7 linked regions of the Homo sapiens genome follow. The protein of the gene in region 3 interacts with the protein of the main gene of each other region in a pairwise test. Each region holds a gene or a part of one and is shown on either strand. Other genes may lie near its edges. The genes, in order: BFSP2, EXOSC5, ZNF620, EAF1, CINP, JRK and NDOR1.

Region 1 (4,966 bases), about 93 Mb from region 3:
TAATCAGTAGCCTGAACTTTTCATTCAGCCTTGGACAATACATCTTGGAATTCACAATAATGCAGATCCTCAGAACCAAGTCAGTGTCATCCGTATAGGAGGCTGTTACTGTAACACAGGCTCGCATGCCCCTTCTGGGTGCATCAGGGGTGGTGTTCACAGCATTAATGCTACATCTGAATAAACAAGGACACTACTGGCCTTTACTTAATCCAATTGGTTCTTTCATCTGTTCATCAAATAGCCAACACTGATATTTATAAAATACCTCCCAGGCCATCTCAGAGAGACAAAGTGGAAGACAATAAAGAAAGGAAGGGTTGGAGTGTCCTGGTCAGTAGGAAGGAAGTGCACACAGGGTCCTCTAGTAGGCGACCAGGTTTTTTACCTCTACCTGCGTGACCTCAGGTAGGTACTCTGCTCTCTGGGTGGTGGGCAACAGGGAGGCTCCTAAGTAAGTCAGTGGCCCAGAGTTTGGAAGAGGTTGTCTGCCCCCAGCTCTGCTACTTTCTGGACATAGAACCTTGGGCAAGTCATTGCAGCTCTCGGGGTCCTCCTCACATAAGAGGACAGTGGCCAACTGTAGGACATGTCATTTTAGAGCTGTGAGGTACACAGCCCATATGGCAGTACCTGTCAACCCTGGACCTCCTTCCTCCTGAGGTTGAGTTGAGAATTCCACGAAATAAACCATAGGATTCATGCACACACCAGGCTGGATCTGCTACTCACTAGAGATTGACTCCCTTCTCCTTCTCTCACCTGAGGTACATTCCTACATTACAGCATCTGGAAAAGTATCCAGCTCTGGGGTTTGGTGACCTGGTTTCTCCAGGGTAAAACTTATGTACAGAGGTTTTTAGGTCCATGTTGTCATCCTGTAACTGGGGGAACCTTTCTGATCCTAGAGAAGTGATTGAGGTGTGACCCTTGGTGGCTTAGTGGATGCCAAGGTCAATAATTAAAACCCAGGGGTGTCATCATATCCTAACTTGGGGCACCCTTGGAGAGGCTTACCAGAAAACACCCTCGTTGTTGTTTTTATTTCTCAGTTTTCCAACAGATGGAGAAGCAGAGGTGTAGGGAATGGCCGGAACATGTGTGGGATCTGAATTTGCCCAAGGTCCTTATCTGGTGCATCAGAGAGTTAAAGGCCCAAGCCAATGTTCAGACAGTGAGGTCCAGAGGGAGGAAGCATCCTGGCCAACAGCAAGCAGCTGATGAACAGCAGAGCATTAGAGGACAGAGATGAGGAGGAAAGGAGAGAGGTGAGGGAAGGACCTGAAGCTGCTGCCAGGACTGAGAGAGGAAACCATAGGCAAGTCTTTTCTCTTGGGTCCCTGGAGCTGCCTCCTGCCATTTTTCATCCTCTATTGCCTGTGTGGACATGTGTTCACATTCACATGTGCCAGCACACATAGGGATGTAGAAAGCCCTGAAATAGCTAGATTGAGTCCTAGCTTGTAATCTGAGGTCTGGGGCAAGTGATCAGTACACTTGTCATCTGAGGTCCTTGAGCCTCAGTTTACTCATCTGTAAAATGGGGTTGCTTGATGCCTGCCTTGCCCACTTAGGTAGTAAAATGCACAAACCCAAATGGTCTACCTCCACAGCCTGCACTGATCCAGCCTCCCCCACCACCAGCAGAATAATCTGGGAGGTTGGGCACATGACCCTGCATCAAAGAATGCATGAGTGCCTCTCTGCACACAGCCCTGGGCAGTGCCCATTTCTCTTTCAGCTCAGTGAATGATGGAAACTCATGGAAGACAGCAGACAAAGCAGCCCCAGGGATAGGGGAGATTCCAGAGAGGCCCGTGACCAGGCCACAGGGATGCTGGGGCTGTAAACCAAAAGCCACTGGACTCTGTAAACCCACTGGGCACCACAGAGGCAGAAGGGGTGATGAGTGAGAGGCGAGTGGTAGTGGACTTGCCCACCAGTGCCAGCTCCAGCATGCCCCTCCAGAGGCGCAGGGCGTCCTTCAGGGGGCCACGGTCATCATCCTCCCTGGAGAGCCCCCCAGCCTCCAGGACCAATGCCATGAGTGGCCTTGTCCGAGCACCCGGGGTCTATGTAGGAACAGCACCCAGTGGGTGCATAGGTGGCTTGGGTGCCCGTGTGACCCGCCGGGCCCTCGGCATCAGCAGTGTCTTCCTTCAGGGCCTGCGGAGCTCAGGCCTGGCCACCGTGCCGGCTCCAGGTTTGGAGAGGGACCATGGTGCTGTTGAGGACCTAGGGGGCTGCCTGGTGGAATATATGGCCAAAGTGCACGCCCTTGAGCAAGTCAGTCAGGAGCTGGAAACACAACTGCGGATGCACCTGGAGAGCAAAGCCACACGCTCGGGAAACTGGGGTGCCCTACGGGCTTCCTGGGCCAGCAGCTGCCAGCAGGTAAGTGTCCAGGCTGTGCCAAGGGCTTTGCAGAGGGCTGGGAGGGGCTGCTGAAGGCAGCGGGTAGGGTTGTGAGTAGGCTGAGGCCAGAGAAACTGACCATAATCCCCTACACTTTCACACTTAAAATGGTAATGATAACAACAATGCTACCTTTTACCGAGGTTTACTAGGAGCCCACGCTAGCCCCCATACGTGCACTACCCACTGTCTTCTTTAAACTTCAAAGAAATGCTATGCAGTGGATCATTCACTGATTGCATTTTTCAGATGAGAAACTGAGGCATGTAATTTGCCCAAGACTTCAAAGCTAGTAGAGGGATGGAGATGAGATTTGAACCTGAATTTTTGTGCCTCCAAAGTTGCATTTGCCCCATTACCCTGGGGCTGCCTCAGTCACCTTTACTGTTGAGAAGGGATTTTTACAGCTATTATCCAATCAAATACCATTGGATGGATGAGGTGTTAAGAACAATGAATAAATGGAGGTGTGTTCCTGTATCCACCTACAACCACGCTGTTCAATAGAAATATGAACTACATTGGTAATTGACAAGTTTCTATTACCCACAGTAAAACACGTAAAAAGAAGCAGGTGAAGTTAATATTATAGCTTATTTAACTCTATATGTCCAGAATGTTATTTCAACATGTAATCAATACAAAATATATTAATGAGGTAATTTACATTCAAGTAGAGCTTTCTGCGTGATGGAAATATTAATATCTTATATCTGCACTGTCCAATCTGGCAGCCACTAGCCATATATGGCTATCAAGCACTTGAAATGTGGCTAATGAGACTGAGGAATTGCATTTTTATTTTATCTAATTTTCATTAATTTAAATGTAAACAGCCACAGGTAGCTAATGGCTATCTTATTGGACAGGGAAGGATGCAGAGGTTTCATCTTTCTCCCTTGCTTGGTCAGCCCTGCTTTTCCCACTCTCCAGGGTGATTTCTGCGGAGTCTGGAGCACATCCATCATGTCTGGCCTGCAGCCTGTAGTTCTAATGCTGGGACTCCAGCCAGCATTACACCTCTCAGCTGGTCTCTCTGTGGATAGCTGGCTTCACCTCTCCTCCTCCTCTTTCTCTCCAGATGCTGGCCTTGGGATCCCTCTGAGCAAAATCAGTCTCTAACCCACCAGGGACTGCCAACTCAGACCCTTGGCCCCCTGGAGTCCAGTATGCAGCCTCCCAAGAGGAGGTCACAAAATTTTATTTGTGTATAGCTGGGGGAAGCTAAGCAGTTGCACACAGGGACTCCCCATTTGCCCCTCCTGCCTCCCACTTCATCCCAGGATGCTTCTCCTGCACTGCTGTCAGTGCCCACTGACAGCACAGAGTGCATGATGAACAGCACCATCCTCTCAGGCTCTCCCCCTGGTGCTGCTGTTCTGCTTGCATCCATCTGGGCTGCAAGGGAGAGCCATCTTAGAACAGTCCAGGGCCTTAACGCCTGTCAAATCTAAGAGGCAGCCATTCCTCCAGGATTCTTCACAACTGTCCTTATTCCAAATATTGTGCCATAACAACCACCAGAACATCCCTAGATACTCCAATATGTCAGCATCTGCTGGACAATCGCTTGCAATCAGATGCCACACAGACTTGTCAGGAGAAATCAGGTATCCCAATGGCTAGGTTAAAAAGTAGGGCCACAAAACTTAGTTTATACTCAATAGATACTGACTTGTTCTGGCTCCAGATAGCTACAAGAGCCTTTGCAACTTACTAACTTCTCTGGGCCTCAGTTTCATTATCTACAAAATGGGTATAACAATGCTTACATATTCCAGCAAATCTGTAGACAAATAAGAGCCTGGCTCCTGCTTACAGGTAGAGTACAGACTAGGAAGCTCTAAAATCCTGTGAGAGCACCACAGCCACACACCAAGACATGCGACCTCTGTAGTTGAGGGTCAGGATCCCACATGGGCTCACTTTCCTCTTAAGTGACTATAAATGAGGGCCTGGGTATGAATAAAGTTCTCTTTTTCTTCTTTTTTAAAAAATCATGGACTTGAAGATAGAGTAAGACCAATTGATAAAATGGAGTTATTATTTCTTTTTTTTTTTTTTTGAGATGGAGTCTCATTCTGTCACCCAGGCTGGAGTGCAGTGGTGCGATCTCAACTCACTGTAACCTCCACCTCCCGGGTTCAAGCAATTCTCCTGCCTCAGCGTCCTGAGTAGCTGGGATTACAGGTGCACGCCACCACGCCCAGCTAATTTTTTTGCATTTTTAATGGAGATGGGGTTTCACCATGTTGGCCAGGCTGGTCTTGATCTCCTGACCTCAGGTGATCCACCCGCCTCTGCCTCCCAGAGTGCTAGGATTACAGGAGTGAGTCACCATGCCCAGCCTGGAGTTACTTTTTCTATATTGCACAGCCCAGCCTTTCAGCCATATTAAACTCTATTCCATCAAGAAGAACAAAAGAAAACTCCATAATTGAGAAATGCTCCTGATTTTTTCAGTGAATCTGGCCTCGTGGAGCTGCAGGAGGCCCCCACCAGGCCCCCACCCCTTTCCAGGCCTAGAGGAAAGGCCACCTCCCAGCCCAGT
Region 2 (4,335 bases), on a different chromosome or scaffold from region 3:
CTTGAACAAGTGACTTACTCCTTGAGTCTCAATCTCCTCATCTGTTAGATGGGGAATATAATAATATTCAATAGGTATGTACTGAAGTACGTACCACACATTTGTTGGCAAATAGGGTCAGAGAGGGGAAGAAACCTTCCAAAGACACGAGGGGGAGGCACTGGCAAAGCCAGGCCCGAAACTTGGGTAGCAGCCACTCCCCGGTGACAGAGCTGGCAGGGCAATGGAGGAAGAGCCACCTCGCTGCTGCCTGCAGGAAGCTCACAGTGGAAAGAGAGCACAGGTTGGGAGTCAGCTGGCTCTGCCTCAGTTTCCTAATGTGTTTCTTCTCCAGGCCTAGCAGCCAGACAAAGACCACAGCTTTAGTCAACCGGTTCCAGCTCTGCTGCTGATCCTCCACGCCTTCCTCTGGGCTTCACTTTCCACTTCTGTAAAATGGGGTCACAATACCTTCTCTCTCTGCCCATCCATAAAATGTCTGTCCAGTTCAGGGCCACGTTCCAGTAAAGCCTTCTACAGTGTCTAATTCTAGTCCTCAACCTCAACCTCTCGCACCTCAGACATGGAGATCTTACAAGGCCACGCTCCTGACTCAGCTGCTGTCTGCTCAGGGCGCCCCCAGCACTGAGGGCCTGAAATCCACTGAGGTGCCGAGTAGAAGTGATTGCCAGCCGGGCACAGTAGCTCATGCCTGTAACCCCAGCACTTTGGGAGGCCAAGGTGGACTGATCACTCGAGGTCAGGAGTTCGAGACCAGCCTGGCCAACACAGCAAAACCCCGTCTCTACTAAAAATACAAAAATTAGCCTGGCGTGGTGGCAGGCACCTGTAATTCCACCTGTAATTCAGGAGGCTAAAGCATGGGAATCGCTTGAGCCCGGGAGGTAGAGGTTGCAGTAAGCTGACATTGCACCACTGCATCCAGCCTGGGTGACAGAGTGAGAGCCTGTCTCAAAAACAAACAAAAAAACCCAAAAAACAAAAGAAGTGATTGGCACAGGCTCTGGAGTCAGACTGGCCTGGGCTTGAGTCCTGCCTGTGCTGCCTTCCAGCTGTGTGACCTTGGGCAAGCCCCTTCCCCTCTCTGGGCCTCAGTTTTGTCACCTGAAACATGCGAACATAAGAACACTCATCTGCCAGGGTCCGTGGGCTCTAGAACTAGACGGTCTGGGTCTAAGTCTTGGCTCTGCCACTTCCACGGGGATCATAAGGGCATGTGCTATATTACATGAGTTAATGTGCATAAGGCACACAGAACAGTGCCTGGCACATAAGTAAGCACCCAGGCTGTTTGCTCTCCTTCTTCAGTGAGCTGGTACCTGTCAAGTGTTTGAAGGCTTTCTGGCTAGCAGTGAGGGTATATGTATCCGCCAGGAGGGAAGCAATCAGGAGACTTCCTGGAGGAGGAGGCCTGGCAGAAAGGATACAGAGCCGGCATCGCTGACAACCTGCAGCACCACGGTGATGGAGGTGCGGGGGTGCAACGTGCCCAGCACCACCGCCTCGCACGTGTTCCTGATCAGCCGCTCCCGGCTCTTCTCTGCAACACCTGGGGAAATTGAAGAGAGGTTCAGGGTCTTCCCCTTCATTTGACTCACCTTCCTCCATACGCCTCACCCAAATTCCCAGAAAGGGCTCACGGTCTCAGCCTGGGATGGTGCAGTTACCTGCAGGGATGATGGAAGATTCCAGTGGGAAGAAGGCAAGGCCTGACTGCCATCCACTGACCCCTGCTACCTCCAGCATCCACCAAGGGAACCATCCAAGGGAAGAAGACCTGGGAGTTCCATGTCTGTGCTGCTACCCACGCCCACTCCCACCCTAGCAGGTCCAGTCAGTGGGGACTGAGGGATATGAGGGTAAAAGGGTGGAAAAACAGGTTAATGGTCCAGGCACAGTGGCTCGCGCCTGTAATCCCAACACTTTGGGGGGCTGAGGCGGGCGGATCACTTGAGGTCAGGAGATCAAGACCATCCTGGCCAACATGGTGAAACCCCATCTCTACTAAAAAAATACAAAAAATTAGTGGGCATGGTGGCACGTGCCTGTAATCCCAGCGACTCGGGAGGCTGAGCCAGGGGAATTGCTTGAATCTGGGAGGCAGAGGTTGCAGTGAGCTGAGATCGTGCCACTGCACTCCAGCCGGGGTGACAGAGCGAGACACTGTCTCCAAAAAAAAAATAAATAAATAAAAATAAATAAAAGAAAAACAGGTTAATGGAATGAATGAGAGTGGAGGCAGAGAGAGGGAGAAAAGAGGGAGGGAGAAATTAGAGGCAGAGAGAGAAGCAACAGAAGATGAGTTATTAATTAGAGGCGGAGAGTTAAAGACAGAAACAGCTGAGTGGAGACCCAAGCGGGGAGTGGAGACTCGGGGCAGCTGGTAGGGAGGAGCTGGGGGGGTGATTTTGACAAACTGGGCACCACTCAGAGGTTCAGCAGGGCCCAATTACCAGGCAGCCCAATCTTCGGCCTCAGGATCACTTCGAGTGTGGCCTTGTTGAAAATCTCTTTGCTGACCTTCACCTCGGCCGGCCCGTACACACCCGCCAGGACAGAGGTGTCACCTGAGGAGACAGCAGGGAGGGCCTCACTCACAGCTTCCCTGCTCCTGGGGCCCCATTTGTGGCACTGAGCCTGACGGCCAGGGCTCCCCACGTCACCCCCGCCATTTGTTGGTACTGATTCTTTGAGCACTCACTTCATTTCTCTCATTTGTAAAATGGGGAAAATAGCAGTCCCTCCCCGCTAGCGTCTTGTGAGGATCAAAGGACACAATTCACAGAAAACACTTAGAACACTGCGGGGCTCACGCTGAATGTGCAACAGACTTTAGCTGTATTAGTAACATTCGTCCATTCAGGCATTCAGGCAGGGTCTCACTCTCATTGCCCAGGCTGGAGTGCAGTGGTGCCATCACGGCTCATTGCAGCCTTGACCTTCTGGGCTCAAGTGATCCTCCCGCCTCAGCCTCCCAAGTAGCTGGAACTACAGGCATGTGCCACCATGCCTGACTAATTTTTATATTTTTAGTAGAGAGGGGATTTTGCCATGTTGCTCAGGCGGGTTTCGAACTCCTGGGCAACTGTAATCCCAAGGTGCTAGGATTACAGGCGTGAGCTACCACGCCTGGCCCTGATATTAGTAATTTTTTTTTTTTTAATGAGATGGAGTCTTGCTCTGTCGCCCAGGCTGGAGTGCAGTGGCGTAATCTCGGCTCACCGCAACCTCTGCCTCCCGGGTTCAAGCAGTTCTCCTGCCTCAGCCTACTGAGTAGCTGGGATTACAGGCGCGCGCCACCACACCTGGCTAATTTTTTTATTTTTAGTAGAGACTGGGTTTCACCATGTTGGTCAGGCTGGTCTCGAACTTCCTGACCTCATGATCTGCCCGCCTCCCAAAGCGCTGGGATTACAGGCGTGAGCCACTGTGCCCGGCTGGTATTAGTAACTTTTAACAGGAAGTTCTTCCTGAAAGCTAACCATCCTCCCTCTTACTGCAGCTGCTCTCAACTTCTCTTTCCAAAGCTTCCCCAGCCCAGCTCTTCCCTTAGGCACTGGCCCCCAAATTTTGCATCAGTCTGGACACCTGAGAAAGGGATAATATCTGGAATGAATCCTGATTCCTTATTTCCCCAGAAGCTATGAACGGGGTACAGGAGGTAAAACCTAAGAAATAAACAGCCTGGCTTCTAGTACTGTCTGCTGTAATCCCAGCACTTTGGGAGGCTGAGGTGGGTGGATCACCTGAGGTCAGGAGTTTGAGACCATCCTAGTCAACATGGTGAAACCCTATCTCTACTAAAGATACAAAAATTAGCTGGGCATAGTGGTGGGTGCCTGTAATCTCAGCTACTTGGGAGGCCGACGCAGGAGAATTGCTGGAACCGGGGAGGCGGAGGTTGCAGTGAGCCGAGATCACACCATTGCACTCCAGCCTGGACAATAACAGCAAGGCTTAGTCTCAATAAAAAAAAAAAAATACATTTTAGGCCAGGCATGGTGGCTCACACCTGTAATCCCAGCACTATGGAGGCCCAGGTGGGAGGACTGCTTGAGGCCAGGAGTTTGAGACCAGCCTGAGCAGCATAGGAAGACTCCTGTCTCTATTTTCTTTTTTGGGACAGAGTTTCCCTCTGTCACCCAGGAGGCTGGAGTGCAGTGGCGCAATCTCAGTTCACTGCAACCTCCGCCTCCCAGGCTCAAGTGATTCTTGTACCTCAACCTCCAGAGTAGCTGAGATTACAGGTGCGTGCTACCACATCCGACTAATTTTTGTATTTTTAGTAGAGATGGGTTTTCACCATGTTGGCCAATCTGGTCTCAGAACTCCTGA
Region 3 (4,335 bases):
TTCTTTGCATTCAAAAGACTTTTCACCAGTGTGACATTTCTCATGTCGGTGGAAGTCTGCCATTTGAATGAAATATCTGCCACATTGTCCACATTCATAAGATATCTGACCACTAGGATTTGTCTGATTTGTAGTGAGTTGTGTGCTGACGCTAATATTTTTTCCTAATTTCTCAAACTTCTCTCCATTCTTGACCTCATAGGCCTCATGGTGCCTGGCTGAGGTATCTGTGAAATGTCTCCTCTTTGACTTTGTCTTAATTATCCAATGACCTTGTGGCTGCTCTAGGCTGCTCCCAAAGTCAAGGTGCTGGGAAACATTCCCTGGCAGGCCCCCCACCATCAGTCTGAAGGACTCTGTTTCTTTGGACACATGATCCTTTGGAGTTAATCCTTCCTTCTCAGTTCTGGCCTCATCCCCTATCACAAAAAGAAAATACAAATGTCAGTCCCTGATATCACACACACACACACACACACACACACACACACACACACAATATCTGTGCTGAAGAAGAAACAGAATCAAGTGGTTCTAATTTGCCCTGAATATATGGATATTTTCTAATATGCTCACAAGATGGCTGCCTAAGATCACCACACAACAGAGCCCTGCAAGGGACATGAAAACTCTATGAGACGGGAGGGAAGCAAGGCCAGGAGGCATTCCCATAAACAGTGTGAAAACCAGAAAACTGCAAAGACTGTTAATTAGGGCAGAAAGACTAAGAGAAAAATGAATGAGGTGGATAAAGATGCAAACATAAAAAAAGTAACAAATGGAAATCCATAAGTGAGAGGAAGACTCCCAAGATTAGAGAAGGGGCAGGCTGAGCAGTTCAAGCACTACAACAGGTCCCACAGGCTGAGATTCCTTAAGAGATGCTTGTTAAAAGACATCATGCATGTCATAACCTTGAAAAGAGAGCTGATCTCTACCATCAAGCTGGCTCTAGTAAAGCAGCAGGCTCCCATGCAGTGGTTGAGGATGCCATGCATGGCAACCACCACAGCATCCAGGAGAAAGGAAGGTTTGGAGGCTTGCCTTTAAAACCAAAAAGCACTGGAAATGTGAAGAACTCTTCCAAGAGTGAATGTAAGTCCCAAAGAGGGCCTGGTAACGATGCTTGCCATTTTTCCTAAAAGGTCTCATAGGTTGTGCATTTGTTTAATACAACAGTTTGAAAAGTGAACTACTAAACTCACATGATAATAAGGGAAAACCAAAGAGAAATATTCCCTCCACTATCAAAACCTTTTGCAGACTAAGTAAAATCTTCAGCCTGCATGCATTCACAAAAAATTGTTCAGAAAATATTTTTACTCAGATGACGTAGGGTCCTGAGGTCACATCCAGAAAGGTACAACTTAAACTCAAGACTTGGGGGTGGATCAGTAATGGGCATTCTCTGCAGAAGAGCACAGAAAATTTTCACAGGCAGAGAATGGGTGAAGCAGAATAAGAAAGATTAAAAAATATACTATGTTTTATGTATTTATTTATTTTTGAGATAGAGTCTCGCTGTGTCACCCAGGCTGGAGTGTGGTGGTGCAATCTTGGCTCACTGCAACCTCCACCTCCTGGGTTCAAGTGATTCTCATGCTTCAGCCTCCCCAGGAGCTGGTACTACAGGTGCACACCACCATACCCAGCTAATTTTTGATGTTTTTGGGTTTTTTTTGAGACAGAGTCTCGCTCTGTCACTCAGGCTGGTGTAGGGTCCAGCCCTACTGGGCCTCTGGGTTTTTCTCCTCATGTGCAGAGACGAGAGATGGTAGAAATAAAGACACAAGACAAAGAGATAGAAGAAAAGACAGCTGGGCCCAGGGAACCACTACCACCAAGATGCGGAGACTGGTAGTGGCCCTGAATGCCTGGCCGTGCTGTTATTGATTATGTACAAGGCAAAGGGGCAGGGTATGGAGTGAGAGTCATCTCCAATGATAGGTAAGGTCACACGAGTCACATGTCCACCAGACAGGGGGCCCTTCCCTATTTGGTAGCCGAGGCGGAGAGAGAGAGGGGACAGCTTACATCATTATTTCTTCTAGAAGGCAGAGCCAGGTGTACAGGGCAGAACATGAAAGTGGACCAGGAGCGTGACCACTGAAGCACAGCATCAACAGGGAGATGGTTAGGCCTCCGGATGGCTGCGGGTGGGCCTGACTGATGTCAGGCCTTCCACAAGAGGTGGTGGAGCAGTCTTCTCTAACTCCCCCGGGGAAAGGGAGACTCCCTTTCCCGGTCTGCTAAGTAACGGGTGCCTTCCCAGGCACTGGCGCTACCGCTAGACCAAGGTCTGCTAAGTAAGGGGTGCCCTCCCAGGCACTGGCATTACCGCTAGACCAAGGAGCCCTCTGGTGGCCCTGTCCCGGCTTGACAGAGTGCTCACACTCTTGTCTTCTGGTCACTTCTCACAGTGTCCCTTCAGCTCCTATCTCTGTATGGCCTGGTTTTTCCTAGGTTATAATTGTAGAACAGAGATTATTATAATATTGGAATAAAGAGTAATGCTACAAACTAATGATTAATAATATTAATATATAATCATATCTATAATCTATTTCTAGCATAATTATTCTTATTCTATATATTTTCTTTATTATACTGGAACAGCTTGTGCCCTCAGTCTCTTGCCTTGGCACCTGGGTGGCTTGCTGCCCACAGGCTGGAGTGCAATGGTATGATCTCAGCTCACTACGACCTCCACTCCCCAGGTTCAACCGATTCTCCTGCCTCCGCCTCCTGAGTAGCTAGGATTACAGGCACGTGCTACCACGTCCATGCTAATATTTTGTATTTTTAGTAGCGATGGAGTTTCACCATGTTGGCCAGGCTGGTCTCGAACTCCTGACCTCAGGTGATCCACCCACCTCGGTCTCCCAAAGTGCTGGGATTACAGGCATGAACCACCACACCTGGCCATATATATATATATATATATATATATATATATATATATTTTTTTTTTTTTTTAGTTGAGACGGGGTTTCGTCATGTTGGCCAAGCTGGTCTTGAACTCCTGGCCTCAAGTGATCCACCTGCCTCAGCCTCCCAAAATGCTGAGATTACAGGTATGAGCCACCATGCCCAGCCTATTTTTAATTCTTATATCAATAGCCATCGAAGTGAGAAAGTTATTCACCTTTAATTTACAATAAATTTTGCTTCAGAAATTTTTTTAAGTATCTGTGGGGGAAAGATGAAATAAGAATCAAAGGATATTTGTGACTGTTGAAGCTGGATGAAGGATACATGGAGTGCATTATGCTGGTGTTTGCATATATTTGAAAATTTCCATTATAAAAACAAACTTTTTATTCTTTAAGTCAGTGCTTAAACAATGTAGCCTATGATATGCAGATGGCCAGCCATGTTGCCAGAAGCCTATTTTCCTCCAAAGGTGGCTGACATCCTCATCTTTGCAAAAACAAACTGGCAGAAAAATAAAATGTTTTCATGTGACAGAGAAGAAATGAGCTGGTTTAAGTGCTGCCCAATCAGACAGTCTCCCTTGGCAGGTTGTGAGGAGGACAGGCAAAGACGAATATGCAAAGAAATCTTACAGTCATTCCTGTCTTAAAAGAGACTGGCCCTTCCCCAGTTGAGGTAGGCTACCACCATGAACTCAGAGAATCACATGTAATGATTCCACAGGAACAAAAACAGTCTCCCAAGAGAAGAAACACTTCTTGCACAATGAAATGTGAAAACAAGAAAGCAAGCCAAGCCAAAAAGGCAGCTAGTGGGTTCTCATGCTCACCTGGACAGATACCTCTGAGAGCCTCCCTGCCCATAGGTTCCCAGGGATCGAGGCCCCATGGCAGTTCCCCTTGCTCCAGCTGGGAGACCAGAACAGGCGTGGTGAATGGGAATGCTGCCCAGGGAGAAAGAAACAGGAAAAGGTAAGGGGAATCAGGAACCAGGATCCTCTTGCAGCCCCCTTTATCTTTATCTGCTGAGCCAGGTAGTGAGAGACAAGGTGAGTCAGGGAGAAACTTAATCTATGCTGCTGGAGGACAGAAATTTCCCACAAAGTGGCACAGAGTCCCAGAATAATCCCACGCTCACATAAGGGAATCTCAAGTTTTCTTCAGAGAACTTGGAAGACACAAGGGGCTTTGCTGTGCTCCCAAGAGCTCCTTTCCCCCCCATGTTTTGGGTACAGCCCCTCCCAGGGTTGGAGGGACAGGTGATTTCAAAACCTGGGAACGCAGGGCTCTCTCCACCCAGAAACTTCCAGGCAGCTCAGCCTTCAGGGCAACAGAGAGTTATTAGAAACCCCACAAAGTTCTCCTGCCAGGAGCGGTGGCTCACACATGTCTTCCCAGCACT
Region 4 (4,335 bases), about 25 Mb from region 3:
CAACTGGAGGCTTCGTTGGAGCTCTGAATGGCATAGGTGGTGGAGGTGGTGGTGGCTGTGACGTCTGTGGAGGACGAGTGGGCTGCTGTTCCATTCGGGCCTGGATTTTACTGCTGCCCTCAGCTCTGAAAGGAGATACAGACATTAAATTAGCAGGGCAAAAATAGTGGTTCTCAAATTTGTCCAGGTGACTGAAAACTCAGAAGTCTCTGTAGAACCCCATGTTCTTTCCAGACCACTTCAAAATACTGATACTTGTAATTTTGTCATGTGAGCTATTCATTCAACATTTGAGTGTCTACTGTAATCCAGTACTATATTATGTATCAGGGATACAGACATGAATAGAATATTTACTGCCCTCGATGAGCTCAAATGTATAGCAAACAAATGTAGGATATAATGAAACTATGAAAATCCATTTTACTAGTAGAAAATACATTCATGCATCCCTTAACAATGAGGGTAAGTCCTGAGAACTGCATCATGAGGTGATTTCATCATGCAAACAGCAGAATGTACTTATGCAAACCAATATAGCATATAATTTTTTCACATGAAAACCCAAATGTCCCACCACCATAATTGAATATCAGTCATTCCCCCTACTTGATCTGCAATGCCAATATCAAGTGCCGTATATCAGGTTTCCATACATGCTCCATTAGAATCTTAAGGGACCACTGTCATATATGTAGGTCACTACTGACCAAAACATCATTATGTAATTATAATCATGAGTGCATGAGTTCCTAAATAAAGTAGCTCCTAAAATATTGCCCAGCTTGAAAATTTTTTCCATTATCTATATACTGCTTGTTCATTTCATCACATGCCAGCTCTTGCTGGCAGACAAGCAGAATTCCATCCCAAGCTGAGAATATTCTATCAGTTAACAATTTCTTTTGTAAATGGACTAGCCTAGTGCTTCTAAAACTTTTGCTTATGCACAAATCACCTGGTGATCTCTGCAGATTCAGATCTCATAGGTGTTGAGATTCTGCATATCATCTAGGTAATATGATACTGTTAGTTCCCATATCACACTGAGTAGTAAGGGAATATACCACAACCATCAGATATTGGAGGAATATCGGTAGCACCTGGTTCACTGTAGGTAATGAATACAAATAAATAGAGTGGCAGGACAGGAGCAAGGACTCTGCAGCACACTCTCCGGGGTAGGTCAAGCTCTCTAACCCTCAGTCTCCGTACCTTTTTTTTTTTTTTTTTTTTTTTAGATAATAGCACCTTTCGTACTCACTTCGGCAGCACATATACTAAAATTGGAATGATACAGAGAAGATTAGCATGGCCCCTGTGCAAGGATGACACACAAACTCATGAACAATTCCATATTTTTAACAAAAGAAGTAAAAAATAATAATAACACCTTTCTAAAAATTACTTGTTAGATAAAACAATGCATATAAAGCATCTAGCAGAGTGCCTGGGACATGATACCCCCTCAATAAATGGTACCTATTTTTATTTTCTGTGGAATGAATGAATGAAAAAAAAATGGCTTAACGAAGCATAAAAAACATCAGGTTGTGACAATCTTTACAATTTAATTACTGTATTATAATAATTACTGTATTATAAGTGAGCTATGATTATGCCACTGCACTCCAGCCTGGGTGACACAGCAAGAGACCTCGACTCTTTAAAAAAAAAAAAATACTGTATTATATGGTAACAAATAGAACCACTAGGTTATTTCTATTTATAGAATGAATTTTTATTTTCAAATAAACTCTAACTGGCTTCATTTTAGACATGTAGCAACTGTTGAATTAAAGAGTTCACTATATTAAAAAATAGGCAAAGTTTTATTTTGGTATTATAGTAATCTCAAATGTATCTTGTAAAAAAATTAATGTTTTCACTCCAGTTAAGTATAGTATATATTGCTCCTTCATAATTATAAGTCTATAAGTTATCTTATCCCTTAGGTGGTACTGTAGCAATCATGAGATTAACAAAATAGGCTTAATTATAAAGTATATCCCCCTTTCCCTAATGGTTCCCATGTTTTAGGTCTTAAAAAACATTATTTCTTTTTATTGCATTTGAGGAAGACATATTTTACTCTGAGCACATATTTACATATTTTGTCTGAGCACAGGTAGTGTTAAGATTATTGATAGAACACTATGAGCAAGCAGATGTTCACAACCTTATAAAAACTGAATAGATAACAGAGGTTTGGAAACATGATATAAACCTGCATCTGGCTATTCACATACCTTGTTTTCTTCACCTGAATGCTGCTACTGAGTTTTTCCAGCACATATTCACCAGTGTCATGATTAATAATAAGCACACAGTCTTTCTGGTAAGGCCGTTTGTTCCCCTTGAACACAGTCATGGGTGGTGTGGATCCCTATTTGCCACAAAAGTATAAGATGATCAAACTAAACATACCAGTTATGAATATCAACTGAATTTATAGATGACTCCACCTGATGAAATCTTTTATCAGAGCTATTCAAAAAGAACAGGTTGAACTGATTTCTATTTTATCTCCTTCTGGTTTCCGAGGCAAAAATAAAGGAGAAATAATATAGCAAGAATTTGTGAATGTGCAACGCGTTCTAAGTAATCAAAAAGGTAGTATAAAAGTTTTAATTACTATATACGTTCCAAGAGAGAAAAATTAACCATTACTTTCATTATACTAAGCAGAGTTATCACTCTGTATAGTAAAACTGTGAGTGATCTCTATTTCTTTGTCATTAGAGAGACCAGGGTTTCCCCTTCTCATGTCAAGCAACCAACAGAGCATTTTCCAAGAGAAGGTCATTATCCTGGTTGGCTCAGAATAAATAAATCATGTCACTCATCTGCCTAAGCCTTTCAATCACTCCTCAATTGCTCTCAGGCCAAAGGATAAAATCTTTAAACTAGCCACTTGGCCTTGCACTACCGGGCCCTTCCCTGGCTCTCCACCTCACCCTGCAGCATACTCCCCTGCGCATGTGCTTCAGAGCAGAAGGCAACTGGCTTCCCTCCTATCCTCAAGCTCTCTCCTGCCTCTGGGCTTTAACAAGGCTTCTGCCAGCTTTAACAAGGCTTCTGCCAGCTATATCCTGCCCCCTCTCTTTAAATGACCCAACCTCCAGATCTGCTCACAGATACTTCCTTAAGGAAGCTGTCCCTGATTTTGTAGAATAACTGCTATATTTTCTTGTATTAATTTAAACTCCAGACCATAAGCTCCACCAGGGCAAGAAATGTGCTTGTTTTGTTCAAGGTTATATACTTCATGCCTAGTAATGGGCCAATGTGTGGGAGGCATTTGATTAATATTTGTTGAATATCATATTTAATGCCTTGCTTAGAATAAAAAACTGCTTGGCTCTTTGACTCCTTATTTATATAGTAAAAATATAGAGCTAGAAAGAACTTTAGGGACCATTTTTCTAAACCTTTCATTTTACATATGGGAAACTAAGGTCCAAAGGGAGATGATGTAACTTGCCAAAGGTAACAAGTAATCAAACAGCAGTTTGAATGGGCAATTTTTCCTCACCACAAAGCTTTCCAGATCTCCCTGTCCAGAGACTTTTCATTCTGTCTCCAGCTACCGAGAACTTATGTTCCAGGACAGGGGTGTGACATGCAATAACACATGTTCACTAAGAGCATCATGTGACCCTTTGGTGCTTTGTCATTAGTGCTGCCTTGGGCAGAGCTTCACAAAAGTCTTTCTCTGCAAGGGTTCTTAATCCAGCTTTCAATTTAGTTCTTCATCCCTAAATCAGCTGAATGTGCCACACCTGTGGTTCCTGCCTGCCTTAACTCCTGGCTTGGTTGCCTCACACTCCTGAGCTGTTGTGGCCATATAATCAGCAGGGCACCTAGGGCTTTTCTGTCTGGAGTTGCTTGGGAGAAAAGCTATATCTAAAAGAGGGGCTAGGTGTCCAGACAGGAACCTTGTCTACTCAGTAGCAGATGGGGGAAAAGGAAGATTGGGGAAAACGACGAATAATCTTTTTTTTTTTTTTTTTGAGGGGGAGTCTCACTCTGTCGCCCAGGCTGGAGTGCAGTGGCGTGATCTTGGTTTACTGCAACCTCTACCTCCCAGGCTCAAGCGATCCTCCCAGCTCCGCTTCCCAAGCAGCTGCAACCACAGACATGTGCCATCACCCCCAGCTAATTTTTTGTATTTTTGGTACAGACGGGGTTTCACCATGTTGCCCAGGCTGGTCTTTAACTCCTGAACTCAAGCTATCCACCCACTTCCACCTCCCAAAATGCTAGGATTACAAGAATTATTTTTAATCAAGCACCTGCCTAGCATGAAGTCCACCCCACCCCACTCCCCAAAAT
Region 5 (4,335 bases), on a different chromosome or scaffold from region 3:
CTTTTTTTCTTTTTTTTGACACGGAGTCTCACTCTGTGGCCCAGACTGGAGTGCAGTGGCTTGATCTCGGCTAACTGCAACCTCCGAAAGTGATTCTCCCGCCTCAGCCTCCCAAGTAGCTGGGATTGCAGGCACCTGCCACCACCCCCAGCTAATTTTTTGTATTTTTAGTAGAGATGGGGTTTCACTATGTTGGCCATGCTGGTCTCAAACTCTTGACCTCAGGTGATCCACCTGCCTCGGCCTCCTAGAGTGCTGGGATTACAGGCATGAGCCACTGCGCCTGGCCAAAACAAAAATTAAAAAAAAACAAATAAAAATACAACAATTAGCTGGGTGTGGTGGCAGGCACCTGTAATCCCAGCTACTTGGGAAGCTGAGACAGGAGAATCACTTGAACCCAGGAGGCAGAGGTTGCAGTGGGCAGAGATCACCCCACTGCACTCCAGCCTGGGCAACAAGAGTGAAACTCCATCTCAAAAAAAAAAAAAATTAACAAATGGGAGGGAGGGAACAAATCTCCCACGCAGAATAATTCCAAATAATTTATGTAGATACTGCACCCTCAAGCAGGTGGTGAATACGTCCCTACCCCCAGGTGTGGGCTATGCATAGTGACTTCCTGCCAAAGAGCACAGCGTGGGAGGAGGAGAAAGAGCAACGTCACAGCAGAGGAACCTGGAAACACTGCCCAGCCAGGTGATCAAGGTCAACTTCAGCAGTGGAAAGTCCTGGCTGTGCACAGTGGCTCACGCCTGGAATCCCAGCACTTTGGGAGGCTGAGGTGGGAGCACTGCTTGAGCCCAGGAGTTTGAGACCAGCCCGGGCAATAGGTGGGACCCAAAGAAAAGTCCTGATGACAGTATATCCAGTACGTGCCCTTGATATGACATGATAGAAATGGCACTTTACTTCTGTGGTCCTCCTCTGAACAAAACCCGTAACCTCAGTCTAATTAGGAGAAAAACATCAGATAAATCTCATGATGTTCTACAAAATACCTGACCAGTATCCCTCAACATTGTCAAAGTCATCAAAAACAGGGAAGTCTGAGAAACTGTCACGGCCAAAAGGAGCCTGAGGAAACAAGGGGACTCGATGTCATACAGGATCCTGAAGCCAAAACAAGACATGACGGAAAAGCTAAGGCAGGGCGCCAGGGCTCACACCTGTGATCCCAGCACTTTGGGAGGCCAAGGTGGGAAGATCACTTCATGTCAGGAGTTCGAGACCAGCCTGGCCAACATGAGAACCCCGTCTGTACAAACGAATTTTAAAAATTAGCCGGGCATGATGGTTCATGCTTGTAGTCCCAGCTACTCGGGAGGCTGAGGCAAGAAGATCACTTAAGCCCAGGAAGTAAAGGCTGCAGTGAGCTGTGATCATACTACTGCATTCCACAGCGAGACCTTGTCTCCAAACAAACAAAAAGGTGAAAATATAAAGATCTTAAATGTTTATGGGTAAGCTTCAGTTATCCAAGTTCAAATATGTGTAAAACCTGATTTCCTGTGCCTAGCAAAGAAATAAGGTGGTGTTATCTTCACATCTGGTGGCCAGTATGGTAGGTATTGAAATTTAGTTATTAGTTCATTAAACAAACACTTTAGTCTCTTACGTGCTGTATCAGGGATGGGCAAACTATCCCTGGAACACAGGTCAATTCTGGCCCATAGCCTATTTCTGTATGGCCCATAAGCTAAGATGGTTTTTACATTTTTAAATGGTTGAAAATAACCAAAAGGACAATAGTGATTGTGACTCATAAAAATTATACAAAATTCTAATTTCGGTGTCCAAAGATAAAGATTTCCTGGACGAACATGGTGGCTCACGCCTGTAATCCCAACACTTTGGGAGGCTGAGGTGGGTGGATCACTTGAGGCCAGGACTTCGAGACCAGCCTGGCCAACATGGTGAAACCCCATCTCTACTAAAAATACAACAATTAGCTGGGCATGGTGGCGCACACCTGCGATCCCAGCTATGTGGAAGGTTGAGGCACAAGAATTGCTTGAACCCAGGAGGCGGAGGTTGCAGTGAGCCAAGATCTCGCCACTGCACTCCATCCAGCCTCAGTGGCAGAGTGAGGCCCTGTCTCAAAAAAAACAAAAACAAAAACAAAAAAGGCCAGGTGCGGTGACTCACGCCTGTAATCCCAGCAGTTTGGGAGGCCAAGGCAGGCTGATCACTTGAGGTCAGGAGTTCGAGACCAGCCTGGTCAACATGGTGAAATGCTGTCTCTACTAAAAATACAAAAATTAGCTCATGTGGTGGCACGAGCCTGTAATCCCAGCTACCTGGGAGGCTAAGGCAGCAGAATCACTTGTACCTGGGAGGCGGAGTTTGCAGTGAGCCAAGATCATGCTACTGTACTCCACCCTGGGTATCAGAATGAGACTCCATCTCAAAAAAAAAAAAAAAGAAAATCCAAAAAACAAAGATAAAGTTTTCATGGAATGCAGCCACATCCATTTACGCATATATTATCTATGGCTGTTTAGTCCTATGTGGCAGAGATGAGTAGCTGAGATAGAGACTGGCTGGCCCTGGAAGCCTAAAATATTTACTCTGTGGCTGGGCGTGGTAGCTCATGCCTGTAATCCCAGCCCTTTGGGAGGCCAGCAGGTGGATCACCTGAGGTCAGGAGTTTGAGATCAGCCTGACCAATATGGTGAAACCCTGTCTCAACTAAAAATGCAAAAATTAGCCAGGCATGGTGGCGGACGCCTGTAGTCCCAGCTACTCTGGAGGCTGAGACAGGAGAATCGCTTGAGCCCAGGAGGCGGAGTTTGCGGTGAGCCAAGATCACGCCATTGCACTCCAGCCTGGGCGACAAAGCAAGACTCCATATCATGGAAAAAAAAAAAAAATTTACTATGTGATGAGCCCTGAAAGTGGGTGACATTTCCCCGGATGACGCACAGGAGGAGTGAGTGTCTAAGACAGCATCTTGGGGAACATTAAGGTTTACGCAGCAGGCAGAGGAAGAGAACATCAGAGGAGACTGAGAAGGAGTAAGTGATGGCCAATGGTCAAGCAAACCCCAAATACGTCCATCGGATTCAGTGACAGTGACCACAAGTGGCCTGCGTCTTTATGTCTTACCAACCCATCCAAGGTGGCCTGCAGTTCCTCACACAGCTTCTCCAGTTCCTCGTTATATTCCAGACACACCTTTTCTTCATTTTCCTTCGAGGCTGGGCTGCTGCTGTCTAGTTCTATCTTGTCTTTATTCCTAAACAAAATAGAAAATAATGTGTACAAAATATACTCTTTAAGCTTGCCTTATTTCCTTATAATAAATTCTACAAACCTCTATATCCACATAGTTACGTGGGACATTTTGCATAAGCATTGTTCTTTCATATCATTATGATACAAATGCAGTTATTATTTATATGTGCAATGAATATGTCCATTGGTCACTCAATTTTGCACCAAAATAAGTCAGTTAAATTCAGCCATGTGACAGCCGGTTTTGGTGGCTCATGCCTGTAATCCCAACACTTTGAGGGATGGACGCGGGAGGACTGCTTGAGTCCAGGAGTCTGAGTCCAGCCTGGGCAACACAGTGAGACCTCATCTCCACAAAAATTAAAAGTAAAAATTAGCTGGGCATGGTGGGACACGTATGTGGTCCCAGCTACTTAGGAGGCTCAGGTGGGAGGATCACTTAAGCCCAGGAAGTCAAGGCTGCAGTGAGCCATTATAGCACCACTGCACTCAGCCTGCACAAAAGAGCAAGACTGTCTCAAAAAAAAAAAAAACACCATTCAGCGGTGTGGCATCCTTGGCATAGGGCATGGTGCTGGATGTACAAAGATGAATAAGACATGGATCATTTCCTCAAAGAGTTCACAATCCAGGAATATAGGCACGCCTCATTTTATTGTGCTTCACCTTATTCAGTTTCATAGATAATGCATTTTTTACAAATTGAAGGTTTGTGGCAACCCTCTGTATGTAGAGCAAGTCAATCAGCACCATTTTGCCAACAGCATGTGCTTACTTCATGTCTCTCTATCATATTTTGGTAATTCTTACAATATTTCAAACTTTTTCATTATTATGTCTATGATCTGTGATTGGTAATCTTTGATATTGCTAGTTTAATTGTTTTGAGGTGCCATGAACCATGTGCATATATAACGGCAAGCTTAATGAATGGATGTTGTGTGTTCTGACTGCTCCACTGACCGGCTGCTCCCCTTTCTCCCCATCTCCTTGGGCCTCCCTGTTCCCTGAAATAGGAGGATACTGAAATCAACCCAATTAATAGCCCTACATTGGCCTCTAAGTGTACAAGTGAAAGGAAGAGTTGCATATCTCTCA
Region 6 (4,335 bases), on a different chromosome or scaffold from region 3:
CTCTCTGCGATAGGGCCCAGCCATGGCCAGTGGGCCTCCCACAATCTGCCCCTGGGTGCAGGGCCTTGAGCAGGGAGGCCATCGTGCTGCCTAAGAGACCAGGACCCAGCAGGGGCCATACCCAGATTCAGAGGCTCAGGACCACCACGGAACTGAAAGGAGGTTCAAGGCCTCAAACAAGAGTGGCCCCTAAAACAGTTGGTAAAGGAGTGTTTTCACCTCTGTTTACAGTTGAGTGCACTGCTCAAGGTCATGCAGCTGGTGAACAGCAGGGAGTGAGCAGTGGAGAACGTGAGGCTGGTCATTAGGAGCAGGTAGCCCTGGGTCTCCCTCTGCCCTCAGCAACTTCACACCTGCCCCTCCCTGGGCCCCAGTCTCATCCCTAAACAGGAGTGACCCCACCTCATTTCATGTCATCATCACTGCCCTGCAAGGGAAACAACAGATGTGCAAGGTCTGAGGGTCCATGTGTAGAAGCAGAGGCCAGAGCTGACACCACATGGGCAAAGGAGTGGGCGTGTGGGGCTGGGAGCTGGGGCTCATGTGGGAGGCTGGTGGCTGCCATGGCTGCAGCTCCTGGCCCTGCGGACAGCCAGGCCTGGGGTCTACAAGAGCTGGGCAGGGAAGAGGACAAACAAGGTCTCACAGGTCCATTCTCCCCAGCCTCCCAGTAGGCAGCTGAGTCCAACGCAGTGCCCGAGAGCTCAGCCCTTGTCAAGGAGAGTCCTCGAACCCAGAGGGGGCTGGGTAAGCAGCAGAAGTGCAGAAGCCCTGCCCAGGCCCTGCCTCCCAGGCCACCACCCACCCCTCACGGCTGCCACACCCACCAGCCCATGACTGTCCACATCCTGACCCCTACCTACCTCATGACCTCCCCGACCCTGATCTCCACACCTGACCCCAAAGCACATTTTGTTATTTTTTGTTTTTAGAGATTAGGTCTCTCACTCTGTCACCCAGGCTGGAGTGCAGAGGCCATAACTCACTGCAGCCTCAAACTCCTGGGCTTGGGGATCCTCCCGCCTCGGCCTCCTGAGTAGCTGGGGTTACAGGCACATGCCACCACACCTGGCTCATTTTCTTTTACTTTCTGTAGAGATGGGGTCTCCCTATGTTGCCCAGGCTGGTTTCAAACTCCTGAACTAAAGTGATCCTCCTGCCGTGGCCTTCCAGAGTACTGGGATTTCAGGCAGAAGCCACCACACCCGGATCCCCAATAAGCACATTTATGTGGGGCGTGAGGTGAGGTCCCTGAGGTGCAGTGTGGACGGGTCTTGATTTGTCCCAAGTTGTCGCTGCCCTGTGCCACAGCCTCCCAAGAATGGATGCAGTCTACACCTTCTGCAAACCCCTGCCTCAAACCGTGTCCCTCCACAAGCACATCCAGCCACTGGGACCCTGAACCTCCTCCAAATGGACTTTAACTGGGGACAACTGATGACAGTCCTCCAACCCCAGCGAGCTGGGGAAGCCGTGGGCAGGGGCTGCGACTTCCTTTCTTCCAATCAACTCCACCACTAGCAATCAATCACTTGGCCCACTGGATAAGAACAGTGGCCTGCGACGTCAGGGGCAGTCCAGGTGCTCTCCATCGCATGCTCAGCCATGGCTGAGCACGAATGAAGCATATGGAAGTCACGCACAGACAGGCCCAGGGCAAGGTCTGCTCTAGACCCTCCTATGCAGGAGACAGACAACTTCCAGGACAGCGTGCCTGGGGTGCTCGCAGAAGGCCAGGCTGGCACAGGCAGGACAGGTGTTCTGTAAACCAACCCCAACGTAGAAGGGGCTGAAAGACCACCTACCCATCCTAACCCCTGAATTCACCATGCCACCCTGAAAGTATGGCCTCTCCTGGGCATCCCGAGGGATGGGAGCTCCCAGAGTGGAGGCTGCCTGTCCCGAGTGAGGACACAGGAGCGCCCTCAGGCCTGAGCACTCAGGGGTGCCACCCCAAAGATGAAGGCAGTGGTGGAAAGAGGTTCTATTAGCAGGCTGGAAGCAGCCACAGAGGTCCCAAACCATATGACGCAGCACCTGCTACCCCACGAGCCACTGGAAAACTGAGGCTGCAACTTGCAGGGGCACTGTGAGAAGACAGGGAGTGGCTCCAGCCTGGTGCTCACAGATAAAACGCGGAGGCATTTAAACAGGACCAGAGACTTTCTCGCTCTGCTCTGGCAAGCTCCAGGGCTTCCCAGGGGCCTCAGCAGCCCCAGAAACAGAGTGAAGAGACACAGCCTCACAGAGCTGTGCTGTGGTGTCTGGTACAGCGGGGCTCCACCTGAGAGGGCTTGGGGAAAAAGATTCTGAGGCTAAAACATTCAACCACTTGAGCTTCTGAGACGGGTCAGGAAGTGAAAACAAAGTGCTCGGAGGACACGGCAGTCTCCATAAAGCGTTCTGGGGGACAGGACCGAGGCAAGAGGTATGCACCAGGCAGCTGGGCCCAGCAGCTCAGAGATGAGTACGCTCTGGGCTCCCTAAAAACCTCACTCCAGCAGCGAGCCCAGGTGAGGAGGGGCTGCAGGAGGAGCAGGGCCCGAGTCCCCTGGGTGGCACAAGGGATTCCAGCCACAAGGGCTGCACCTAGAGTCAGGCTCCAGGCCTTGCTGCAGTTGGTCTGGAAGAGGGGCACCCTGAGGACACAGCCACTCACTGGGGACAAGCGCCTACCCATCAGCCCAGCACAGTCAGCACAAGAGCAGATCAAGAACGGGAAGAGCTCAGGTCCTGAAGAGCTACAGTCTGACAGGGACAAGCCATGTCCAGAGGACTCAGGAGAGCCAGCCAGGAGCTCGGCCAGCTGGCCTGCCCATGCCCTCCCCAGCTCCACCCACCCAGGATGTCCTACTGTTTCAGAGCCCTCGGGACATGTTCTAACCTCCTGTGTTGCCTCAAGCAGCTGCAATCCAGCAGTCTTGGTTAAGAGGCTCTATTAGGAGTGACACGTGAGCCCAGAAATGGCACAAAGTACATGATGTGCAGAAGTTCCCCAGACAATGAAGCAAACAGTGCGGGTGACACCACAAAGACAATGGGACACAAATGGGAACTGGGACTGTCGTTCAGCACCGAGATCTTTAAAAACTATTTGGCTTTTATAATCTTCACACATGCATTCAAAGCAAGAAACACACACTTCCAGGACATAGATAGGGCTCTGTCAGCAATGACTTTTGCCCCTGTATCTACAGAGATGTGAAAGTACGAGAAACCACAGCGAGCCAAATCCTCTCCTTCATGAGAACAGAGGTTTCAGTGGAATCAACAGCAGACGCTGGAATGCAAACTACGTGCTGACTCGGCCAAATGATATGAATTTAAGAGAGGAAAAGAATTCAAGGGCAAAGCACTGAAAATAACATAGCAAGAAAAACCTATTTAGGCCGAGTGCTGTGGCTCACACCTGTAATCCCAGCACTTTAGAAGGATGAGGAAGGAGGATCGCTTGAGGCCAAGAGTTCAAGACCAGCCTGGGCAACACAGTGAGACCCTGTCTCTACAAAAAAAATAAAAAGGCGCGGTGGTGCGTGCCTCTAGTCCCAGCTACTCAGGAGGCTGGGGCGGGAGGATCACTCAAGCCAGGGAGGTCGAGGCTGCAGTGAGCTGGGATCACACCACTTCACTCCAGCCTGGTCAACAGAGTGAGACCCTGCCTCAAGAAAAGAAAAGGACAATGCACCTATTTTATGCTCGCTGAAAGACGAGGCTAATCACTGTGGACACAGGGCGTTCTGGAATCTCAGCTGCAGGCAGTGAGTGTTGCCCGTGAAATGGAGATGCCGCAAAGCAACTACAGACATGGAGAAAATAACCACATCCTCTTACAACCGCCTCTGTGAAAACTGACCAGGACAGACAACTCCTCCCCAAAAGTATTACTAACGTGCTAACAGCTGGGGATAAGAGCACACATACTGCTAGAAATCTAAGCAGCCTGTTTTACTGTTTTCAGTGACTTACGTGCAAACCTAAGACTAATCTCTGAATGTCTGATCAAGACGTATTCATGTAAAGGCCATAAGTATGAAATTCTGGGCAACATGGTACATTGGACTCTGAGCCAAAATGCCAAAATACCACACAGGGTCCGTGTCCTCTATCCGGGTGATGAGCAGGGCCTGGTCAGCCACTCCTACTTTCTTCCCAGAAAGGAACTCTACCAAGTCAACTCTCCGTGGGGCCCCCCAACATCTTGGGGCCAGAGCCCATGGGACAGGATCTGCGGGTAACAGAGGATGGTTCCAGAGTCATTCTGCTGAATGAGGCCACAACTGAAGTGAGATGTGCGGCCTGTTCAGCCGCTAGCAGGCCAAGAACTGAGTCCCAGCT
Region 7 (4,335 bases), on a different chromosome or scaffold from region 3:
CATGATCACAGGTGTGTCTGGTGTCTCTGGGAAGGCCAGACTCCCAGGCCGCACCCAGAGGGGCACCCGGACAGGTCCTATTGCAGGAAGGAGGTGGCATGAAGAGGATCAAAGACCTGTGCTGAGTCTGCTGGGGCCCTAGCCCAGCATTTGCATGAGCATGGGAGAGAAGGGGATATGGGCCCACGGCCCCCACCCTGGGAGCAGGGGTCACCTTGCCCAGGGTCCAGGGATGCCAGCCAGGAGGAGCAGAGGCCCCGGCGGGGCTCCTTGAGGCGAGTCTGGAACTGCACTACAGCCACGAGGATCTGCAGCCGTGAGGGGTGAGTCTGGGGAGGACGGCGGGGTGGGGGTGGTGGAACAAGGCTGCCCTCACCTGTGCCTGGGCCGTGGGCCCCACCTACCTCCCGCAGAGGCAGTCCGACTGGGGGAACGTCACCTGGTCAGAGGGCAGCCCCTGCTTACAAAACCCCACAGCCCCGGTCCCAGCTTTCCCAGGGCCGGTCCTGGGCTCCAACCACCAGGCCCCTCACCAGCAGCGAGGAGGCGATGGAGAAGGCCCTCGGCCGGATAACGGGGATGAGGTCCAACAGGTAGTCGGGAGGGATGGCGGCAGCTGTGTGCGGGAAGTCACAGAGCACCTAGGCAAAGAGAGTCTCAGGGTGGCTGCAGCGTGGCTGTAGCTCAGGGGCTGGGCCTGCCGCCCTCCCATCTCACCTCCAGGATGGTCCTGCGGGGCCGGTTGCAGTATTCAAAGAGCTCCTCCTGGCCTTGGGCAGAACTGAACTCCAGCAGCTTCTCCCGCTCCAGCTCATGGAGGGATAGACAGGCCAGGAGTTCGAAGAAGGAGCGGCGAGGCACGCTGGCGATGTCCAGGTAGTGGGACACGAGGTGCCGCATGGAGCAGGGCTGGGGCAGCCTCGTGGGGGAGGAGACATCTGCAGGGTGAGTGGGAGGCCTCCGTGGGCTGCGGCGGAGCCCTTGGGGTGGGGGCCCAGGGCACGGGAGAGGGCAGAGAGTCAGGGTGGCCGAGGCTGGGCTCACCTGGCTCCCGCGGCTGCAGCATGAAGAGCTGGTCAGGGTCCAGGCCCAGCACCTGGCAGAACCGCTGGACATGGGCAGCCGAGTTGGAGGGCTGAATCAGCACCACATCACCAGCAGCAAAGCTGTGTGGAAGAAGCCACCAGGGCTGTGGGGACGCCGCAGGGAGGATGTCGGGGCCCCGGATAGAAGTCATCCCCTGCAGCCCGGCCCAGCCTCCTCCGAACCCCAGACCCACGGCCCACCTCACCTTGCCCTCCTCGGTCCCCAGCAGTCCCCACCTGATGCCAGAGCCCAAGATGTCAAACTCAATCAGCCGAACGTCCTGGAAGTGGGAGGGGCCGGTGACTCTCTGGTTGGAGATCATGGGTGCTAGGAAGGGCTTCGACTCTGACGGGGGCTCCTGAGAGCCGGGGTGAGCTACCCGCTGCCCCTCAGAGCCCGTGCTGGGTGCCTCTTGGAGGAACAGCAGGGTGAACTTGGAGGGCAGGCTGTGGGAGGGCACGCTGGTCAGACCAGGACCCACTCCCCAGGGGCCGCCCACCCACACGGGAGGGACCCAGGGCGAGGTCCCCAGGCCAGGTTGGGTCTGCTGCGCCTGTGGGTGACCCGGGGCCCACACTCACGGGACTCCGGGAGGGATCTCAGTGAGGCCCGGAGGCGGCGGGTACAGCCCCAGAACCCTGTCCCACAAGTCTCGCAGCCAGGGGTCCACAGCAGCGTCGGGCCTGGGAGGGAGCACGTGCGCTGGCCTGAGCGGACCCTGCGTGTGGCCAGACCAGACTGTGGAGGCGGGTACCACGCCCGCAGACTCACCCCAGCTCATGCTGGTCATCGCCCAGGCACACGGGCAGGAGGGCGCTGCCCCCAAGCTGCAGTAGCCGTCGGTGCAGCTTCTTGGCCACGAAGTTGAACCTGTGGAGACAGTGAGGCTGGTCCTGGGCTGGAGCCCGGGCGGAGAGTGGTGCCCAGGCAGAGTGGAACCCGGGAGAGTGGAGCCCGGGCGAAGAGTGGAGCCTGGGGAGGGCCTCCCTCGGGTGGAAAACACACTCCACGCTGGCCGCACCCTAGGAGGGGGCAGGGCCTCCACACGCCAGGGGCTGCCGAGACCAGGGCAGCTGCCAGGGTGCCAAGCAGCAGGTCCTCTGCTCGCAGAGAATGAGCCTGTGTGGGTGGGAGCAGGCGGCCTCGTCCCACTGATGGGCCCTCATCCCTGGGCAGGGACTTGAGGCAGCTGAGGCCTCCAGGCCCCCAGCCAAGATGTGGGTCACTCCTCAGCTGAGAAACTCTGTGCTGGGGAGAGAGCCAGGCATCTTCCCGGGGGTCAGTTTCTCTTCTCACTCTGGTTCCGAGGCATGACTGGCTCTGGGTCACGCTCCTCCCTGGGAACGCTGTCGGCAGCGGCCTCCCTCCCTCTCTTGAACGAACACTGTGTCCCACACAGAACAACGTCACGCAGGAAACAACGTCATGCACGGACCTACGTCACGCACGGAACAAAACCTCCCGGCAGAACCGGGGGGAGCTGTCTCCGATCTTCCCGTTCTTTTTCATCTGAAATGACTGACACCTGGCTATGCAAACGGCTTTTGATGCTCGGTGCTCAGCGGACCTGGGCCCTACGTGGACAGTCGGGGTTTTCACCGTTGTGGGGTCTAAAGATGCCATTTGCACACTGAACATGCCACTCCTTGCTTAGGGTGCAGAGGAGCACTGTGAAAATGCCCAGGAGAAAAGGCAGAGGTGGCCTCTGGGGTGGCAGGAGCATACGGGGTCCTCCTCCAGGCTCAAAGTCGTCAACACTTCACAGCACGCCTTTTTGTAAAAGTGGGGACCGGCGCCAGGTAGGCCTGTGTGACGTCAGCGTGGCTGGAGCCCAGCCCTTTGCCACCCTGCCTGCTCCCCTCTGTGCCCTCCCCGCAGCGTGAAGCCTGGGGTGCCCACCAGGGAGCGTTGTGGAGAAGCCAGTACCACTGCGAGGGCCCTGAGGCGCGCAGGGGCCGACCCTGGAAGCTGGTCTCGGTCCTCTGCCAGCACACCTGTTGCTCGACCCCCAGAACTGTTCCGTCCGCCCACTGTCCCATCCCCTACTCACTTGGCGTATGAGGAGTCCCCGAGGCCCAGGACGGCAAAGTCCATCTGACAGAGGGCAGTGGAGGGCAGGTTCTTCCGGAATATAAACCTCCAGAAGTTCTACAGCCGGAGGAAACTCTGAGTCAGAGTCCTCGACCTCTAGGCTAGCCCCACAGCAGGGGGTGAGGGGAGGGTCTCAGGGGAACAGGCAGGTGGGTAGGATGGGGGCAGAATACAACTGGACCTATCTGACCAAAAGGCAGGGCCCAGGTCCAGCCTGCAGGATGATGGGCACCGGGAGGAGGCAGGGCTGGTCCAGCGTCTAGGGAGACCAGGTCCCACCCTGCCCACAGGAGCCAGACCCTGCTGTGCTCTACAGGCCTGCGTGGAGCTTCCTTCCTGGGACATCACCCTCCTCTGCCCCAGGCTCTGAGCTGCCAGGAGCAGCTCTGCACTTGGTCTCCAAACTGTCCACCGCCCCAGGGGTCCCTCACCTCCACCTGTCATTTCCCAGCCAGAGCGTGGGCCTCCACTCCCTGAGTTGGTCTGTCCCAGAGGCTCCTATACTCAGACCTCTGAGGTCCATCCCAAGGGCTCTCACACTCGGCCCTCTGAGGTTCCAGTGTCGCTGAGACACATCCCCCTCCTTCCGTGGCTGCAGGACCTCGAGCCAACAGGGTCCAGATCCTCTGGTTCCACACCGTGCCTTCCACGGTGTCCTCCCAGCTTGATCAGAGGCCCCCCCAAGGAACCTACTGCCCCCTCCCTACCTGGATCCCAGGTGGCCTGTGTGCGTGGTCTTCGCCGCCCACCCACCTCCCCTTCCCGTGGCCAAGCATGGAGGCTAGCAGACAGGGAGGCCCTGGCCTTGTCAGCCCACAGCTCTGACCCTGGCCCTGGACCACCCCTGGCCTCCCGGGACCTCACTGCCTCATCAGCTGCCTCTCTGGGCCACGCTATGCGAGCAAATGTACCCAGCCTCTTGCCCCCGAGACCCTCCCTAGCGCCCTGCTGTTGAGACACCCTTGCTTCCTGAATCCCAAAAGACTCTCTTCCCTGCTCCGTTTGGTGAACTTCCTCCTTCCCGAGAAAAGGGTTCTGGAGAGAACATTCTTGTGACTTTTCCCTCACTCGACTGGCATGCGGCTGGGTCTGTCCTGGGCTTGGCACCACCACTGAAAAGCCAGGGCCCCACTTGCTGCCCTTGGGGTGTGTAGGGCA

The links.
Region 1: the proteins of ZNF620 (region 3) and BFSP2 interact in binary tests that used the Homo sapiens proteins (3 or more experiments, as listed by UniProt).
Region 2: the proteins of ZNF620 (region 3) and EXOSC5 interact in binary tests that used the Homo sapiens proteins (3 or more experiments, as listed by UniProt).
Region 4: the proteins of ZNF620 (region 3) and EAF1 interact in binary tests that used the Homo sapiens proteins (3 or more experiments, as listed by UniProt).
Region 5: the proteins of ZNF620 (region 3) and CINP interact in binary tests that used the Homo sapiens proteins (3 or more experiments, as listed by UniProt).
Region 6: the proteins of ZNF620 (region 3) and JRK interact in binary tests that used the Homo sapiens proteins (3 or more experiments, as listed by UniProt).
Region 7: the proteins of ZNF620 (region 3) and NDOR1 interact in binary tests that used the Homo sapiens proteins (3 or more experiments, as listed by UniProt).

Annotation. Positions count from the first base shown.
Region 1 is NC_000003.12:133,398,179-133,403,144, forward strand, and holds the start of BFSP2 (phakinin), read left to right. Parts: upstream 1-1,877; 5' UTR 1,878-1,905; coding exon 1,906-2,394; intron 2,395-4,966.
Region 2 is NC_000019.10:41,390,414-41,394,748, forward strand, and holds part of EXOSC5 (exosome complex component RRP46), read right to left. Parts: intron 2,568-4,335; coding exon 2,454-2,567; intron 1,550-2,453; coding exon 1,428-1,549; intron 1-1,427. UniProt on the Homo sapiens protein: Non-catalytic component of the RNA exosome complex which has 3'->5' exoribonuclease activity and participates in a multitude of cellular RNA processing and degradation events.
Region 3 is NC_000003.12:40,511,944-40,516,278, reverse strand, and holds part of ZNF620 (zinc finger protein 620), read right to left. Parts: intron 3,878-4,335; coding exon 3,764-3,877; intron 420-3,763; coding exon 1-419. UniProt on the Homo sapiens protein: May be involved in transcriptional regulation.
Region 4 is NC_000003.12:15,430,138-15,434,472, reverse strand, and holds part of EAF1 (ELL-associated factor 1), read right to left. Parts: intron 2,387-4,335; coding exon 2,250-2,386; intron 126-2,249; coding exon 1-125. UniProt on the Homo sapiens protein: Acts as a transcriptional transactivator of ELL and ELL2 elongation activities.
Region 5 is NC_000014.9:102,352,660-102,356,994, forward strand, and holds part of CINP (cyclin-dependent kinase 2-interacting protein), read right to left. Parts: intron 3,239-4,335; coding exon 3,109-3,238; intron 1-3,108. UniProt on the Homo sapiens protein: Component of the DNA replication complex, which interacts with two kinases, CDK2 and CDC7, thereby providing a functional and physical link between CDK2 and CDC7 during firing of the origins of replication.
Region 6 is NC_000008.11:142,659,491-142,663,825, forward strand, and holds part of JRK (jerky protein homolog), read right to left. Parts: 3' UTR 1-4,335. UniProt on the Homo sapiens protein: May bind DNA.
Region 7 is NC_000009.12:137,211,401-137,215,735, reverse strand, and holds part of NDOR1 (NADPH-dependent diflavin oxidoreductase 1), read right to left. Parts: intron 3,235-4,335; coding exon 3,137-3,234; intron 1,957-3,136; coding exon 1,858-1,956; intron 1,770-1,857; coding exon 1,668-1,769; intron 1,533-1,667; coding exon 1,323-1,532; intron 1,167-1,322; coding exon 1,045-1,166; intron 939-1,044; coding exon 718-938; intron 642-717; coding exon 534-641; intron 330-533; coding exon 215-329; intron 78-214; coding exon 1-77. UniProt on the Homo sapiens protein: NADPH-dependent reductase which is a central component of the cytosolic iron-sulfur (Fe-S) protein assembly (CIA) machinery.